Regions from separate parts of the Homo sapiens genome. Here all the other regions are linked to region 1. The links come from fine-mapping of genetic effects on gene expression. A gene starts in region 1. Each other region holds a variant in brackets. All regions are shown on one strand. Distances are from middle to middle.

Region 1 (6,650 bases):
AAGTAGCTGGGACCACAGGCATCTACCACCACTCCTAGCTAATTTTTTGAGTTTTGTTTTGTCTTTTTGAGAAATGGGGCCTCACTATGTTTCCTGGGCTGGACTTGGAACTCCTGGCCTCAAGCGATCCTCCCGCCTCAGCCTCCCAAAGTGCTGGAATGACAGGTGGGAACCACTGTGCCCAGCCCCCCTCCCATTTACTGAAACAGGGTCTCCAGGGTCTCACTGTCAACCAGACTGGAGTGCAGTGATCTTTTACTTACTTTTAATTTTTGTATCTACAATGAGGTAAGCGACCCTGATCAGGCCCATTTTACAGATCAGAAGATCAAGGCCGCATTTTGCTTACCCAGCCAAGCTGGGGGCCCAGGACCATGCCCCTGAGGACTCAGTTTCCCCATCTGTAAAGCAGTAGGCTGTAGAATGCTGCGTCCGGGCAAAAGCCCCATAGCACACGTGCTGCCGTGCGCTGTCAGCCTCCTGCCAGAGAGCGGCCCACTCCCCCAGCCCCACCGGGGCCTCCCATCCAAACAGCTGAGGCTCCATCGCTGAAGTATTCAGCAAACACTCTCCCCTGAAAACCTTCCCGTGAACTGTGGAGGCAAAGGGGTGTCGGGGGCTGGGCGGGGGTCCTGGCTCACCATGCTGAAGTCCAGGAGGTCACTGAGCTCCTTGTCTGTGCCCACAGGCGCCATCCTCTGCGGCTGGTTCATTCTCCTGGGGCCAGGGCGGGCACCTCAGGCCTGGAAACCCTGCTTGGTGGATGTGGGGACAGATGGACAGGGAGAAACAGGGAGGGGAGAAGAGTTGTGAGTGGTCAAAGCACAGAGTGCTAAAAGCCACCTAAAAAACCCTCAACCGCCCTGGGGTCTGAGTTCCAGCAGAGCCCTGGGGGCACGGGGAGCCCTGGGAGCAGGCGCAGGGAAGCTGGAATTCCAGAGTCTAGGTCCCTGCAGAGTCCTCCCCAGAGACCACAGGGAGTCTGAAAAATGGGGGGAGGGTGTGCAAATATAAACTCCCTAACTCCCCCAGGGAACACCAGGGCATCAAGTTGCCAAGTTTAAACTGCACGCAGGGCAGCCAGAACCTCTCCTTTCTCCAACTCTCTCATTTCCAACCAACCCCGGGCTTCCTCTGAGGCCCCCTACCCCCGGGAAAGGGAGGAACAGCCCGATCCTACCCCGCCCCGAGGGAAATTTGGTGATTCCCCCCTCCCCCAGCAGATGGCACAGCCCGTTGAAGACCAGGTCGCCCCCAAATTCAACATGAAGGAAATCCACAAGTCAGAAAACCACGAAACTCTTTTACAAGCTTCAAGACTTAAAGTGCCGGGGGTGGGGGGGACGCGCATCCTATGCAGGGACCAGCAAAGCTTTCCTCCACCCTCAATCTCCCTCCCCCCAAGAAAACCCCAACAGTATTCAGGAAAGAAAAAAAAAACAGCCCTAGATTGCTTTACTGTCGCGATGTATCCGGGAATTATTTTTAAGCAAAACTTTGACAACATCCCTTGCCTGCCCTCCATGAGCGGGGAGAGCGTCTCAAGACCAGGGTGCTCCCGCGTGGTCCCAGGGGGCTCCATTCTAAGATGGGGGATGGGGGATCCACCTGCCAAGACCCATTCCACCCCCAGAAAAAGGTACAGAGAAAAATTTCCATTCCAAAGAAATGCACTCCAGGCCCCTCCAGTCTCGACTTTCCCCAGGGGTCCCCAGGTGGGGACGGGGGCAGCCCGGGAGACACCTCCGAGGCTGGGGGTGGGGAGGAGCCTCCGAGGTCGAGGGAGACCCAACTTCAGAAGCAGAGAAATCCCCTCTTTGTCTGCCAACTGGAGGCCGGGTGTGAAGCGGGCGCCCCAGCGCAGCCCCTCCCCCGCTCAGTTTTTTTCTTTTTTGGAGGGCGTGTGAAACTGACTTTTTTTGAGGACTACGAAACCGCACTTTTTTGTGGGGTAGCTGAAACCGATTTTAAGACAGACTTAGTTGGGGGGGTGGCGAGCTAAAACGGGCATTCTACGGGAGCTGGAAGACTTCTGGGGCGTCCCAAGGACTTTGAGAGACTTGGAGAATGTTTGAAGCCACTTTGCACGGCGCCGAAGGCGGGGGGCGCGCTGGAACGCCTTTTTCCCGGGGGGAGGCGGCCCGGGAAGCCGGACCCCCCTCCCCCCGCAGCCGGTGCAGGCGGTGCGGCCCGGGAGCCTTTGAAGCTCGCAGCGCGGCCGCCGCCTCGCCCCGCATTAACGCGGAGCAGATGTTACCCGCGCGCCCCCCCCCGGCCCGCCCGGCCCCGACCAGCGCCTGCAGCGCGCGGCACCTTCCCCGCGCAGACAAAAGGACGTCCCTCCCGCGCGCTCCCCACCCCAAACTCCGGCGCCCGGGCCGGGCCCCCCTCTACCCGAGAAAGGGGGCGCCCCGGGGTCCCCGTGCGCCCGGGCTGGGGGGGACGGTCCTCGCGCCTAAGTTGCACAGCCCGTCCGGCGCCCCCCGCGCCCCCGCCCGGGGCTGCTTAAAGTTTCCCGAAGTGCCCGGCCCGACGGGGGCGACGCGGGCCTGGCGAGCTCCGGGCTCCTCCACGTCGCCGCCCCCCCGGCGCCGCGCGAAGTTGGAGAACAATGACTCCCGGGCCGCGGGGCGCCCCCCGACACCGCCCCCGCCCCAACTTCCTCCGCGCCCCCCCCCAACAAGCGCGCGCGGGGCGGGCCGGGGTTCCCTGGGCACAAAGCACGGGGGTACCGGGCGCGCCCCCCGCCCCCCGCCGGGCTCACCTGCTGGGCGCGGCCGGGCACGCGGCGCGTGGGGGGGGGCGGCGGCATGAAGCGGGGGGGCCCCCCCCCGGACAAAGGTGCGTCGCGGCCGGGCCCCCGAGGGTCGCGCGTGGGCGGCGGCGGCGGCGCGCGTGGCCCGGGCCCCTCCCACCCCCGCGTGGCCCGTCCCGCGGGGCCCGTGCGCGCGGCCGGCCGGGGCGCCCCTGGGGCAGCGGCGTGCGCGGTGCCCGCGGTGCCCGCCGCCGCGTCGGCTCCGGCCCGCTACGCCCGCAGCCGCCGCCGCTGCCTCATCTTCCTGCGGCGGGAGACATGTTCCGCCCCCCGCCCGCGCCGCCCCGCCCCGCCCCGTGCAGGCCCCGCCCCTGCCCCGCCCCCGAGTGCCCCGCCCGGCGGCCCACGCGGATCCCTCCGCCACCTCCGGGCGGCTCGGGCCCGAACGCCCTAGCTCGGCCTCTCGAGCACCCTCGTGAGGACCCCGAATCCCGTGAGGTCCAGAGCCTGGGAGCGGGGACGCGCAGAGGAGGCGGTCGGGCCACGGCGCGGGGAGAAATCACGGACTATCCCCGTCCGCGGAAGCACACACGAGCTGTGCGCTTAGTCCATGACGCAAGCGAGTAAGGCCCGTGAGATTGAAAGCTAAGGCAGAGCAGTCTGGTCAATCGGAAGCCGCGAAAGTCTGATGGGCGGGGATCCTAGCCATTCGTGGTGAGGCCCCGCCTCCTTTCTTCTCGGCCCCGCCCCTCAGCAGAGGCGGGACTCTGCGAGCGAGAGGCCGCGAGAGGCGGCCGGGGTGGGTCCTGGAGTTTTGTTCTCAGGTTGGCGTGGCCGCCCGCGCGGAGCCTTCTGCTTGGTTATATTTGCGTTCCTCGGGCCGGCCCCGCGTGCTGAGTGGTGCGAGCGGGTATCACGGCCCCGAGGGGGCTACGTCAGACCCATTTTCCCGGCGGGAAAACCGACTCTGGCTCCGGCTCTGGGTCAGAGAGCCCCGCGGGGAGTCTCAGCGGTGCCTTTGCCGACTTGAGTCTCCGTCTCGGCATCTGTGAATTTGGACCTGACTTTGGACAGAACTCAGGCCAGATCTGGCTTCCTGATTCTTAGTAGTCCGTGTCTACATTTTAGTAAAAAGTGACCCCGCCTAGGATCGGGCGCCGTGGCTCCTGCCTGTGATCCCAGCGCTTTGAAGGAGGCCGAGGCGGGAAGATCGCTTGAGGCCAGGAGTTCGAGAACAGCCTGAACAACATAGTGAAACCCCCCCCACCCACACCCGTCTCTAAAAATATTTAAAATAATTTAAAATAATAATTTAAAAAGTTGACCGGACGCGGTGGCCCACGCTTGTATTCCCAGCACTTTGGGAGGCCAAGGCGGGCAGATCACCTGAAGTCAGGAGTTCGAGACCTCTCTGGCCAACACGGTGAAACCCCATCTCTACTAAAAATACAAAAATTAGCCGGGCATGGTGGCGGGCACCTGTAGTCCTAGCTACTCGGGAGGCTGAGGCAGCAGAATCGCTTTCACCCGAAAGGCGGAGGTTGCAATGAGCCGAGAGCACGCCATTGTACTCCAGCCTGGGCAACAAGGACGAAACTCCGTCTCAAAATAAATAAATAAATAAGTAAAATAAAATAAAAATACAAAAATTAGCTGGGCGTGGTGGCATACACCTATAATCTCAGCTACTCGGGAAGCTGAGGCAGGAGAATCGCTTAAACCCAGGAGGCAGAGGTTGCAGTGAGCAGAGATCGCAGCACTGCACTCCAGGCTGGGCGACAGAACGAGGCTCCGTCTCAAAAAAAAAAGTAAAATAACTAAACAAATAAATGAAAATAACACAATCTCCCAGGGCTCCCTGGGGCCCCAAAGGGAAATTTACACTCCACTCCCAGCCTGGGAAGATGCCACCATCTCGCTGGCCCGCTTGGCTCCAGCCATCCTGCCCTCTGGATGGTCCAGAACTTGCTAAGCTCATCCCCACCCCGGGCCTCTACGTTTGCTTTGTCCTCTACCTGGGAGGCTTTTCCCACCCCTATCTGGAGCCCCTGAGTCATCACAGTTCAATGCTGCACCTATGCCAGGCCGGCGGGGAGGCGGGGCCACAGGGGCCCCCCACCAAAGCCACAAGCCCCTCCTGCTATACACCCAAACTGGGCTGTCCACAGTCCGACCCTCCGTGCCCAGAGAGTTCCACGTGCCGCAGGTCTGGGGAGAGGGCTGTGGGTCCCAGGGTCTGTGCTGCAAATCCCTCATCCCTCTCCACCTCACTGTGACCTCAGGCAAGTTCGTGCTACTCTCCGGGCCTCGGTTTCTCCATCTGGACAGTGGAAGGGGGGAGTCTGGCACACAGTAGGTGCTCACAGCTGATGCCTGCCTTCCTCAGCCGCCCCCCACCCCCGCAGAGGCCTCTCCGGAGCCAGGGTCTCCAAGCAGCTCCAATCCCACCCCAGCCTCCTCAGCCCCCGGCCCTTCCTTGTGGCCCAGCCCTGACCCCATGGGTCTGAGGGTGTCTGTGGCCGGGTCTGGCTCTCCCCATTCCAGTGTAGGGAGCTCACTGTGGGCCACTCCCCACCCACACTCAGGGTCCAAGCCATAGTGTGGCAGCCGGAGTCCTCCCGAGGAGCCCTTCAGTTTCACCCACGGAAGGGAAGCAACCATCCAATCACGGACTTCTTCTTCTTCTTCTTCTTCTTCTTCTTCTTCTTATTATTATTATTATTATTTTGAGAAAGAGTCTCGCTCTGTTGCCCAGGCTGGAGTGCAGTGGTGAGATCACAGCTCACTGCAGCCTTGACCTCCTGGGCTCAAACGATCCTCCCGCCTCAGTTTCCCGAGTAGCTGGGACCACAGGCACGCGCCACCACACCCAGCTAATTTTGTATTTTTTGTAGAGACGGGGTTCTCCCTATGTTGCCCAGGCTGGTCTTGAACTCCTAGGCACAAGTGATCCTCCCGCCTTGGCTTCCCAGAGTGCTGGGATTACAGGCGTGTGCCACTGCGCCGTACAAGACTATTCAATTATCGGGCACTGACAGCGAACGGGGCCTTGTGCCGCGCATCGTAGCACTGTGGACAGTGATGGACTCAGTCCCTGCTGTCCCGGCAGGATGACCCATGAGGGACCCCTTGTCTAGTCCTGAATGTGGCTCTTTCCTGTGAGGTCCTCCTGCCTGTGTGGTTCCACGTATCGTACAGATGAGGAAACTGAGACTAGGGGTCTCCTCCCTGGGCCCCAGGGCACCCTGGGGCTCGCGCCTGCCAGGAGGTTCCGCTGGTAACCACAAGCCACCATTGTTTTCCCCAAGGAGGTCAGTCCTGGGGCTGAGTCACTGGGTGGAGCAGCCCGTGGGGGCCCCCCACTTGGCCACCACCTCTGCCCAGCCCCGAGGCCTGGGTGCTCCCTCCAGGGCCCTGGTACGGGGACAGGCAGCAAGCTATCCTCCTGACTGTGGCCTTTGTTTTGCTCTGGGGCCGGGCAGGAGGAGGAGCAGGGCCTCTGCACCTGCCGCCTGTTCCCTCCACACCTACTGTGTGCGCCCCCGCCAACATGAACCACGTATGTCAGAAAAACTGAGGCCAAGGACAACTTCCCACTAGGGAGACACAGAAGCGAGGGGGGCGAGGGGCGGCGATGGCGAGGTTTCCAGAGACAGACGCAGTAGGTGTGCAGGCCACAGCTGTCCGCAGAGAGACTGGGCTTGGATTAGGACTTCGGGGCCACCCTCCAGATTTCTGTTTCCATTTGTCCCTAAAGTGGGCACCTTTGACTTCTCCCAGGGTATGAACACACTCCCCCAACCCCCAGCGCCCTCCAGCAGGGGCGGAGAAGGGAGTGGCGGCCCAGCACTTATCACCCACGTCAGGCCCTGGGACAAACCTCGCTCCGGCGTCC
Region 2 (5,000 bases), 33 kb before region 1:
AAAGGCATCTCACAGACAAGGAAACCACATGGCTAGAAACACGTGGAAGTCCGCTTCAGCACATCAAGAGATTAAGGAAATGCAAATTAGGGTGGCTTTGCGCTACCCTTTCATACCCAGTCAGCTAGCAAAGTTGAGGGACCTGAACAGTCAAAATCTTGCCTGTGGGAGGGCAACTTGGCTGCTTTGGAAAATAATTCATCAGCCTTTCCTCTGAATTGACAACAGGTGTATCACACCCTTGATCAGCAGGTTGGCAGGAAAGCGTGATGTTGGAATGACCTACAGCCCCACGCCCGGGCCAGGGCCAACGGCACACTCACAATGGGACCCCAGCCGCTCACACCACACATGTACCCCACACACAACATAAGCCAGCAAACCAGCGTGTAAAGAACACGCTAGTGGGACGCCGTGTTCATGAAGCTCAAGAACAATAATTGCAAAACATGTGGCTTAAGGGTACACAGTGCCCCAAATGAATGCGGCCACTCTGCATTCAGCAGGGCCTGGGCCACCCCCAAAACCCGGGCTTGGGGAGTCCAGGAATCAGTCAGGGCTCACATGGAGCAAACCAGCTGCCATCCCCTGAGACCCCCGTACCCTGAGGGGGAGCCTCAGAAATGCACCCGCTCCCCACAGTGAACTCTGCTCCAATCGGCCAACGCCAGCCACCAGGACCAGCCCAGGCCTCAGCACACGAAGTGAAGGACAGGAAGGAAACAGAGGGGAGCCTATGGGTGAAAGACTAAGCTTGGGGCTGCCCCTGGAAACTGCTGACCTGTGGGTCCGGACCCTTCTCTGGGGTGGGGCCGTCCTGGGCACTGCAGGGTGCTGAGCAGCATCCCTGGCCCCCACCCACTCCATGCCAGGAGCTCCCCTCAGCCCTGACAACTGTAGATGTCCCCAGACATCACCCAGTGTCCCCTGGGGGCAGAGCCGCTGCGGTGAGATGCCCTGGCCTAGGAGTGATAGAATCAAGGTACTTGGAAAGTCTGCCTGGAAAGCAGGCAGGATTCCTGGGCTGGTGGAAGGCACAGGGCCAGGACAGCGCCCACAATGACCCCACCTTCTCCTGGGCCTCTCATGGGTGTCTGAGACACTCAACAATCCCCAGGCCCAGGTCCAGATTTGTCCCCAACCTTTTCCTTTGTCCCCTTCCTTACGGAGTTCCCAGCCCCAGTGTCACCCACAGCTCGGGCCAGAAATCCCAGAGCCACCCTGCCTTCTCTCACCCTCAAGTCCTGTCCATCACAAATCCTGTGGGCCCCGCCTTCAGGAGATGCAGGGCCCACCCACTGCTCACCCCTCCAAGGCCCCTGGACCAGCCCTGTGGCCTCTGCCTTGGTCTCCCGGTGCCACTCATAGTCTGTCCTCCAAGCAGCCACCAGAGGGTATCTGTGAGCACCTGGGTCAGGTCCCATCCCTCCTCAGCCCTCCACGGCTGCCACCTTTCTCATGGCCAAATCCCAAGTCCTCCCCGCAGCCCACAAGGCCCCGCATGACCTGCCCTGCCCCGCCCTCCCCCCTTCCCTCTCTCCCTCTCCTCACTCTGCTCCAACCCCACGGGTCTCCTGGCTGTTCCTCCCAGGTGCAGTCCAGCCCCAGGGCCTTTGCCTGGGCTGCGCCCTCTGCCTGAAACCCTCCTCCTCCAGGTACTTGCCTACTCTTGCCTCCTCCCAGATGCTGCCCAAACACCACCTTGTGGCCTCATGGGCCACCATCTTCAAAGCCATACAAAACCCCCAACCCACCGCAGCCACTTCGTTCCTTCTCCCTGGCACCTGTACTGTGCAGCGAGCTCCTGGTCTGTCTCCCCTGAGGCAGAGGCATCCTGCTGCACCCCTCGCCCCTTCCCCAGTGCTGAGCGCTGCCAGGCACACAGCGTCTGGGAGCAGGCGAATGAAGAGGCAGCCCAGAGCTGTCCACCTCACACGCCCAGGGCCAACGCCGGCCCCGCCGGTCTTACCCACCCTCCTGAAGTTGCTGACTGGGGCGCCCATGTCACCAGGTGCCCCCACGGTGACACCTGCCCTGGGCTCCCACCCTGACCCCCACCACTAGAGTGCCTCAGTTTCCCCAACTGGAACCAGGAGTCGGACAGTCCCAAGCTCAAGGGCTTACCACTGTAGGAGTCGGGAGGCCGAGACAGGTCAGGGAGGGTGCCTGGCTGGCTGGGGAGGGCCGCGTGGTTGTGCATGAGGCTGGTGCTGCCTGCGAGGCCGTCCTCGGGGTGGCTGCCTCCAACCTGCAGGCGTGGGGAGACGGGTGCATCAGGGGGAGCCGGGTCCCCGCCCACTGCCCAGCTCCACCCTCGCCCAGCGCTCACCAGGCCTGCGTGCCGCCCGCCCAG[T/C]GACATGGGGCCGGTGAAACCTGAGGCCAGCGCCCCGTGGCCAGGCAGCAGCGTGTGCATGTCGCCGGCTGTGCCCACGGCGTGGCTGCGGAGCACGTGGATGGCCTCGTCCAGGTGGTCTTCTATCTTACTCTGCTGCAGGGTGGGGGGATGGGTGGTGAGGGGCCCAAGCCGAGGGACCCCACAGGCCTCCATTCATGTCCCTTCCGCATGCAAGTGGCCGGTGGTCCCATCTTCCCCTTCCCCAGGAAGCTGCATATGCCAGGCATCTGGCGCCCGGGAGCACACACAAAATGTGTGTGCCTTGGCGGCCACGAGGCCTCAATAACAGCTTGGGGCTTATTTACAAGAAACTAACAAAAAGGTTTCTCCTTCTCAAGGAGCGTCTGTCCTGCAAATTCTGTCGGGGAAGGGTGGGGTGGGGCGGGGCAGGCACTCACCAGGCCGTGGAGACCCCCGTCGTAGCTGGGCGATAAGGCACCGGGGGCTCCTGCTCGAGGCCACTGTGACGTTCCTGGAAGGGAGTGGGGACGTGAATGGGGTGCGAGGGGCGGGGTGTGAGCATGGCCTGATGCCCATGGGGAGGGATTCATGAACCACCCCGCCTGTCCAGCCTCCGGTGATGCCCAAGATGGCCATTCCGGGGCACCCCACACTGATGCAAAGCTGCTCGGCCCCGCCAGGCAGGGATGCTGGGTGCCCAGTGGGTACTGCCATTCCTATCTCTGAGCCTCAGTTTCCCCATCTACAAAATCCAACTCCCCACTCAGAGGATAAAGTGGCTCGGCAGCACACAGTAGGGGGCTCCTCCCCATGCTGCCCCACCCTGGCTGACCCACGCTGGGCTCCAGCAGCAGGCAAGAAAGTGGCAAGCTCCAGGTGGGACCAGACAGGCCGAGGTGAAGTGAGGGTTCCTGGCGCTTCCCATGGGGGCAGAGATGAGGACTCACGGGTGTTTTTAAACACCCAGACCTTCTGGAAACCTCCAGTTCTCACTCCCCCTCCTCCTGTACCTGCCCCCGACCCCCTGCGGATAAGCAAGCACGTCCTCACAGGGATAGGAGGGTCTGCCCTCCCATGCCGGAGCACCGCACAGGGTAAACAGTCAGTACCTAATAAATACCCAGTGGGTGAGCAAATGGCAACACGCACACATTCTAGAGTCCAGGCCACAGCCCTGGCGATGCTGGCCCCATCGGACCTGGGAGCTGCTAGGCACGCCAATGTCCCCTCATGTTCACGCAGTGTGAACTGCCAGGTCCTGCCTCCTGGCTTTGCCTGTGCTGTGACCTAACCTGGACGCCACCTCCCAGCCCTCCCTCACTGCCTGGTTATGTGCTATAGCCTTGGAGGGCTGGCTTGGAGGCTGCCTCCACTAGGCAGCTTTCCTGGATTGCCCAGTGGAACACAAGCCCATGGGGGACTCCCTTCCACCGTCGGTTCCTGACCAGCGATGCCACGGGCCCTTGGGGGCCATCTGCTCCCTCCCCGCTGCCTGCCTATCCCAGCAAGGTGCAGACACCAGAACCAGCCTCCCCTCCCCCGCAAAGCCTTCACAGACCTCAGCCTCCCCTCCCCCCAAACCCTCACAGACCTCAGCCTCCCCTCCCCCCAAAACCCTCACAGACCTGCCAGGCCCTGGGGGGAGCCCACGGGGGTAGAAGGGCTGGACGAGAAGTTATTGCTTGAGTGATCCGGGGAGTAGATCTGCGAGGAGGACCAGGAGAGATGGGCGGTCAGGGGCCGGCCTCTCAGGTCACTTGCCTGGCCACCCCCCATGCCCCACGCCTCACCGAGGCCAGTGCTTTGCCGAGGGCATCCCCGGAGCTGCCAGCTGTGGTCCCTCGGGAGCCTGTGGGTGAAGAGAGGTGAGGCCCACGCAGCCCGGCCTGGGTGCTGCCGCCGACGGCAAGCTCTCCTGCGTTCTGCCGTCCTGCACAGACACTGCTGCGCCAGGGAGAGCAGCCTGACTCGGGTCCGGTTTCTGTCTGACCCCCTGAAACCAGCCTCTGCAGGGGTTGAGGCACTGGGGACAGGCCACTGGCAGGGGACCCTGGGTGGGTGAGTCCCCTTCTGGGCCTGGGTGGGTGAGTCCCCCTCTGGGCCTGGATGGGTGAGTCCCTCTCTGGGCCTGGGTAACTGAGTCCCTCTCTGGGCCTGGGTGGGTGAGTCCCTCTCTGGGCCTGGGTGGGTGAGTCCCTCTCTGACCCTGGGTGGGTGAGTCCCTCTCTGACCCTGGGTGGGTGAGTCCCTCTCTGAGCCTCTTTCCCAGCTGTAAGGCGGGAAAGCCGCTCCTCAAAGATCTGTTTCCAGACATCCCAAGCCCAACGCACGTGGCAGGCCCTGCAGACAGCGGACAATGAGAACTGACAACAACCCGCTCTCAGGGCCAGCAGACGCGCCTGCGCCTCCCGTGGAGTCCTCGCCACCCCCCACCCAGACCCTGCCTGGAGCCCAGTGTCCCCTCGGAGAGGCCGCATCCCAGGGAGGGGCCATACCCAGGAGGCTGTCGGCCCCGCTGACAGGCGGCGTGTGGCTGGAGACGCCGCCGTACGTGGCTCCGGGGGCTGAGGAGAAGGAGGATGCAGATGGGAGCCCACCGTTCACCTCTGCTCCATGCAGCTGGTAGCCCTGGGGGGTCAGGCAG
Region 3 (5,000 bases), 21 kb before region 1:
GTGAGGCGGGAAGGGGACAGCAGAGCTCACGGGGTGAGGCGGGAAGGGGACAGCAGAGCTCACAGGGGGTGAGGCGGGAAGGGGACAGCAGAGCTCACGGGGGTGAGGCGGGAAGGGGACAGCAGAGCTCACGGGGTGAGGCGGGAAGGGGACAGCAGAGCTCACGGGGTGAGGCGGGAAGGGGACAGCAGAGCTCACGGGGTGAGGCGGGAAGGGGACAGCAGAGCTCACAGTGGCCCTGCTTCCTGCTGGCCAGGCCCCTGCCCTTCCTGAGCCTCAGTTTCCTCTGTTTCAGGCGTTGAGGGGCTGATGCCCTGGGGTGCTGGGGTCAGAGGCATTTGTCTGTCCCAGGGGACAGGCCTGGGGGCCCTGGCGGGGAGCCCCGGGGCCTGTGCACACCGCATCAGGTTCACCGCACAGGCTCCCCCAAAGTGCCCAGCATTCAGCCTTCAGGCCAGGGTTCATTCGCGAATGAGCACGTGACCTGCACCCCACCAATGAGCACTTCCCTGGGGCGCTCAGTGACAAAGGACAGGTGAGGCCTCGGGGCTACGGAGGGGGTCAGCTGGCCAGGGCGAGCCCCCAGCATGGAAGGCCTGGGCTACGGAGGGGAACAGCTGGCCAAGGCGAGCCCCCAGCATGGAGGGCCTGGGCTACGGAGGAGGACAGCCTGCCGGGGCGAGCCCCCAGTGTGGAGGGCCTGGGGCTGATGCGGTGACACCTGGATCCAGCCTTGCCTGAAGCAGGCACCCCGATTACTCAGGACCTGAGCCACTTAAATCCCCTTCTGGCTGACACTGGGCACGGAATGTGACTGGGGCTGCTGTGAGGGGCTGGGACGCGCGATCGAGTAATGTACATTATTCTCAAAGCAGGAAAAAAATTTCCCGATTTTTGAATTTTAAAAGTTCAACGATTTCCCAACTCCTGGAACAAATGCTGCTGTTTTTTGCCTCCCGTTTCCTCATCTTGGTGACCCGGGGGGACATGGGGAAGATGACAGCCACGACCCACCCCACAGGCCACACCCGGCCACAGCAGTCACTCGCCCGGCTCCTCGGGTGAGAAAACTGAGGCCATAGGAGACTGAGGTTATGGCAAAAGCCCCCCGTGCCTCCCCGGGACCCCCGCCTGCCCTCTCCAAGCTGCCTGGCTATGGCCTGGGCCCCACCCGTGGGGGTGGCAGGTGGGACATGGCTGGGCTCTGGGCATTGCTGGCCGGGCCGTGGGAACTGCCCACGTCAGCCCTGCCCACCCTGGGGCCATCGGGGGTATGAGGAAGAGGCTGGGAGGAAGGAACAGCCAGTGAGGAACCAGGCTCCCAGGTGCAGGGGCCACCCCCGGCAGGGGGGCGGGGCCAGGCCTCACCTACCCCGTAAGGGGAACGGGCAGAAATCGCCCGTGGCACGTGGTGGGCCCTCAGACACACCCGCCAGACCTTCACGCTATTCGCTTCCTACTCAGGACACCAACTGACTCTACTGTACTCCAAGTTCGAGGCCGGGCAAAGCGAGACAGGACCGTCCCTGCCCCGCTGTGGGGCCCAAACAGGCGCTGCCCCTCAGGGTCCAGGGAAAAGGCTGGGTCGGCCAAAGTCCTCCGGGCCTCAGTTTCCCCGCAAGCCAACAATGCCGAGGGGTACACGGTGAGCACCTGGGCCCCGCAGCAGGTCCAGTGCCCCACAGCTCCCGGCTTCTAAGCAGCGCACACCCCCACTGCACCACGAAAAGCCAGCAGAAACACTGCCTCAAACCGTCGGGTTCCAGAGAAGGGAAGGATCCCGCATCCCAGGATGACTGAGGGATGAAACCACAAATTCCACAGCTGAGGCACTGGGGCAGGAGGCTGACCACGACAGCGGGACCCCTGAGGCCCTTACCAGCCCCCCAAGCAGCGGGACCCCCCCAAGACCCCTACCTGAGCCCCCGAACCCTGGGGCACAGGACTTGACACTCCCGCAGGAGGCGGAGCATGTGAAGCTCGGGGCATTTCCTGTGTCACCCGCAGGAGGGACCGCACACGGGACACTGTCCCAGTCGCAGCCCCAGGTGCCTGGAGGAGGGCGTCCCAGTCAGCCCCACCCAGCCGCAGACCCCCGGCCAGGGTGCCCTTCCCAAGCGTCGGTTCGTTCCCCTGCAGCACGGGTGAGCCTGCAGCGGGGCTGGAATATACCCAAGACCAGGCACCAACCCCCACCTGGCATTGGGCAGGGCCTGCAGAGCTGGGTCAGTCCTCACCGCCTCCCTCCAAGAAGGTTCTGGGAGGGTCCCTTTCCCACAGTGGGGAAACTGAGGCTCAGAAGAGGATGGCGCTTGCCCAGGTTCCGTGGTGGGGTGG[G/A]ACCAGACACCAGGCCTGAGTCTTCATTCTTTTTTTTTTTTTAAGATGGAATCTCGCTCCATCACCCAGGCTGGAGGGCAATGGCGTGATCTCGGCTCACTGCAGCCTCCACCTCCTGGGTTCAAGCAATTCTCCTGCCTCAGCCTCCTGAGTAGTTGGCACTATAAGCATCCAACACCATGACCGGCTAATTTTTGTGTTTTTGGTAGAAGCGGGGTTTCACCATGTTGGCCAGGCTGGTCTCAAACTCCTGACCTCAGGTGATCCACCCACCTCGCTCTCCCAAAGTGCTGGTATTACAGGCGTGAGCCACCGAGCCCAACCTGAGTCACGATTCTCTCGGTTAACAGGAGGGCCCCCCAGGGAAAGAGGGCGGGCGGGCGGTCTGCGGAAGGGCATGGGCTCTGACCACCGCACACTCTGGCCGCCCTCCCGAGTCTCCAGAACTCCTACGCCTCCTTCCCAGCGGGCACAGGCCAGCCCGGCTGACCCCTCCCCGGGAAGCAGGAGGAGCCCTGCAGAAATCCCAGGGAGGAAGTGGGGTCTGGAACGGCCTCCCTGCCTCTACGCTCAGGCGGGGAAGCCTAGTTGCAGAGTGCCGTGCCAGGGAGTCCGGGCCACGTCCCCTGCACCTCCCCGCAGCTGCTCCCAGGACGGGCAGAGGCTTCGGCTGTCCACACCCTCTGGGTGAACGCTGGGGACTTGCCTGGCGCTGTGCGTGCACTGACCATGCCAAGGCCCACGTCTGCACATCTGTGCACAGCAGAGGGACCGCACCAGGCCAGGCACTCACCTCCGAGTCCCGGTCCCAGGAATGTGGATGAAGAGAGGCTGCTGTGCGACTCAGTGAAGTGGGTGCCCTCGCTGAAGGTCTAGGGGAGATGGGGTGGGGATGAGAGGTGCTGGGGCTTCACAGGCCCCCCCTCCACCCCGCATTACAGCTGGAGAGGCAGGACTCAAACCCATGTCCCCCAGTCCAAACCCCTGGAAGGCTGGCCCCTTCTCTCAGCCTCAGTTTCCCCACACCCCTCGCCCCCAACTCTGGGGACAGGAAACTCAGGGTCTCAGGCCTCACGGGGACTCCTACCCGGCTGGGGTCAAAGGAGGAGCTGCTCTGGTCGCCGCTGCCCCAGGAGCCTGAGCTGGGCCGGTCCTCAAGACCTGCAGGCAGGACAGAGAGAGTTATGGGTCACCCTCACGCCTGCCCAGCTCTAAAAGCTTCGGTTCATCATCTCAGGGGCAAACCTCAGTGGACCCGGGGGGCTTGTGGAACCCTTCCTAACCCAGCCTCACCCAGCCCGACTCATGAGGACACCAGTCAGCAGCTAACACCCAGACACCCTGGGACTCGGAGCACTTACAGGTCCATAAACTTAAATTAACTCTTCCGTCGGCTCTCTGCTGGCCAACTCCTACCCACCCACTAAAGCCCCAGCTTTCATACCCTCCTTGGGCAAAGACCTCACTCTCACGCCGAGCCTCCTCCCCATCAGCCCCAAGTCCCTCCCTCTGGCCCAGCCCTGACTATGTGGACTGGGGTCTCTGTGTCAGATGCAGACTCTTCTGACCCTGTGAGAAAGGCTCATGACAGCATGAGGGTGTGGAAGCTAACCCATGAGCTCTGGGGAGGCCCAGGGTCTCCCTGTCCCCACCTGCCAGTGTGGGAAGTGGGGCCGCCCTTTGCTGAAGCAGCAGCAGAGGCTCACCCATCGGGCAGGAGGCTGGCAGCCCGTGAGGGTGGAGCCGAATCTCATCACCCAGGAACAAGCCCAGTGTGGAGACCAGAAGCCTGCGTGGGGCAGGAGTTCCCGGCGCAGCAAGGGACGGGACGAGGACCTTGGTCCCGGGGCGGGGCGGGCGGGGCCCTTATCTCTCAGAACACTCACAGGCAACGCCCAGGACTCCAGAATCTTCTGCCCTGGGCAGGGAGGGCCTGCTTGGATCCTTCCCCCTTCCATCGGGGGCCACAGAGCACACCCGTGGAGAAGCAGGAGCGGGCCCTGGGCCTCCTCAGCTTGGCCACGGAGTTGCTGCCCTGCCTTGGTTTCCCTCTCTATAAATGATTTACAAACAGGCCCTACTTTTGCAGGGCTGGGGGTGTCCATGTCCAACTCCCAAGTCCAGAGGCTTCCCGAGAGCCAGGCCTGGGGGACCCAGCCCAGTGCTGATGTCTGTGACCGGCACCACCTCAGGCTGTTCTGCAGGCTCCCCCGCCCCGCCCCCTGCCCTCCCTGCTCATCCACACCAGAAACTTCTTTCAAATCGCATCCTTCTATTTCGGTGCCTTTGTGTTAATCATTCCCCCCGGGGAGTATTGGTGTTTAATTGCTGTCTGATTTGCATAATTATGCATATTAATCTCCAAGTCTAATGAATATTCATGCGCCTCATTTAGATTTTGTTTTCTAATCAAAAATTTCCAATGTGATTATGAGTGGGGGGCTGGGATGCTGCCTTGGCTGGGTTGGGGGCCAGGCAGGGGGCTCCTGTGGTCTCCAGGAATCCACACGGCATTCGCTGCCAGGTCTGGGCCATCTGCACCCCAAGATCCTGGTCCTGCACGTGGGCCCTGGTGAACAGGGCAGCTGCTGAGGCCAGGGTGGGCTGGCTGTGTAGGGGTGGGCACAGCGCCGGCACCCTCTGGGTCTCAGTTTGCCTCTATA

Evidence for each region.
Region 2: its variant is fine-mapped to the expression of TCF3 in whole blood (INTERVAL, PIP above 0.99).
Region 3: its variant is fine-mapped to the expression of TCF3 in tibial nerve (GTEx, PIP 0.96). The same link has a PIP of 0.9 or more in subcutaneous fat.

What each region holds. Positions count from the first base shown.
Region 1 is chr19:1,649,536-1,656,185 of GRCh38, forward strand. TCF3 (transcription factor 3) reads right to left here and starts at 3,080. Exons shown (of 19, transcript NM_003200.5): 1 at 2,765-3,080; 2 at 642-752. The coding sequence starts at 713. RefSeq lists enhancers at 1-120, 3,539-3,588, 3,709-3,818 and silencers at 1,999-2,118, 2,099-2,321, 2,129-2,358, 2,449-2,528, 3,059-3,188 and 1 more.
Region 2 is chr19:1,616,987-1,621,986 of GRCh38, forward strand. TCF3 (transcription factor 3) reads right to left here. Exons shown (of 19, transcript NM_003200.5): 11 at 4,852-4,984; 12 at 4,147-4,205; 13 at 3,982-4,060; 14 at 2,794-2,867; 15 at 2,330-2,488; 16 at 2,125-2,248. Among named protein-coding and RNA genes, the nearest start is that of UQCR11, 14 kb to the left of the region's middle. The variant T/C (reference allele first, on the strand shown) is at 2,354.
Region 3 is chr19:1,628,908-1,633,907 of GRCh38, forward strand. It overlaps TCF3 (transcription factor 3), which reads right to left. Exons shown (of 19, transcript NM_003200.5): 4 at 3,425-3,498; 5 at 3,131-3,209. Among named protein-coding and RNA genes, the nearest start is that of TCF3, 21 kb to the right of the region's middle. The variant G/A (reference allele first, on the strand shown) is at 2,338.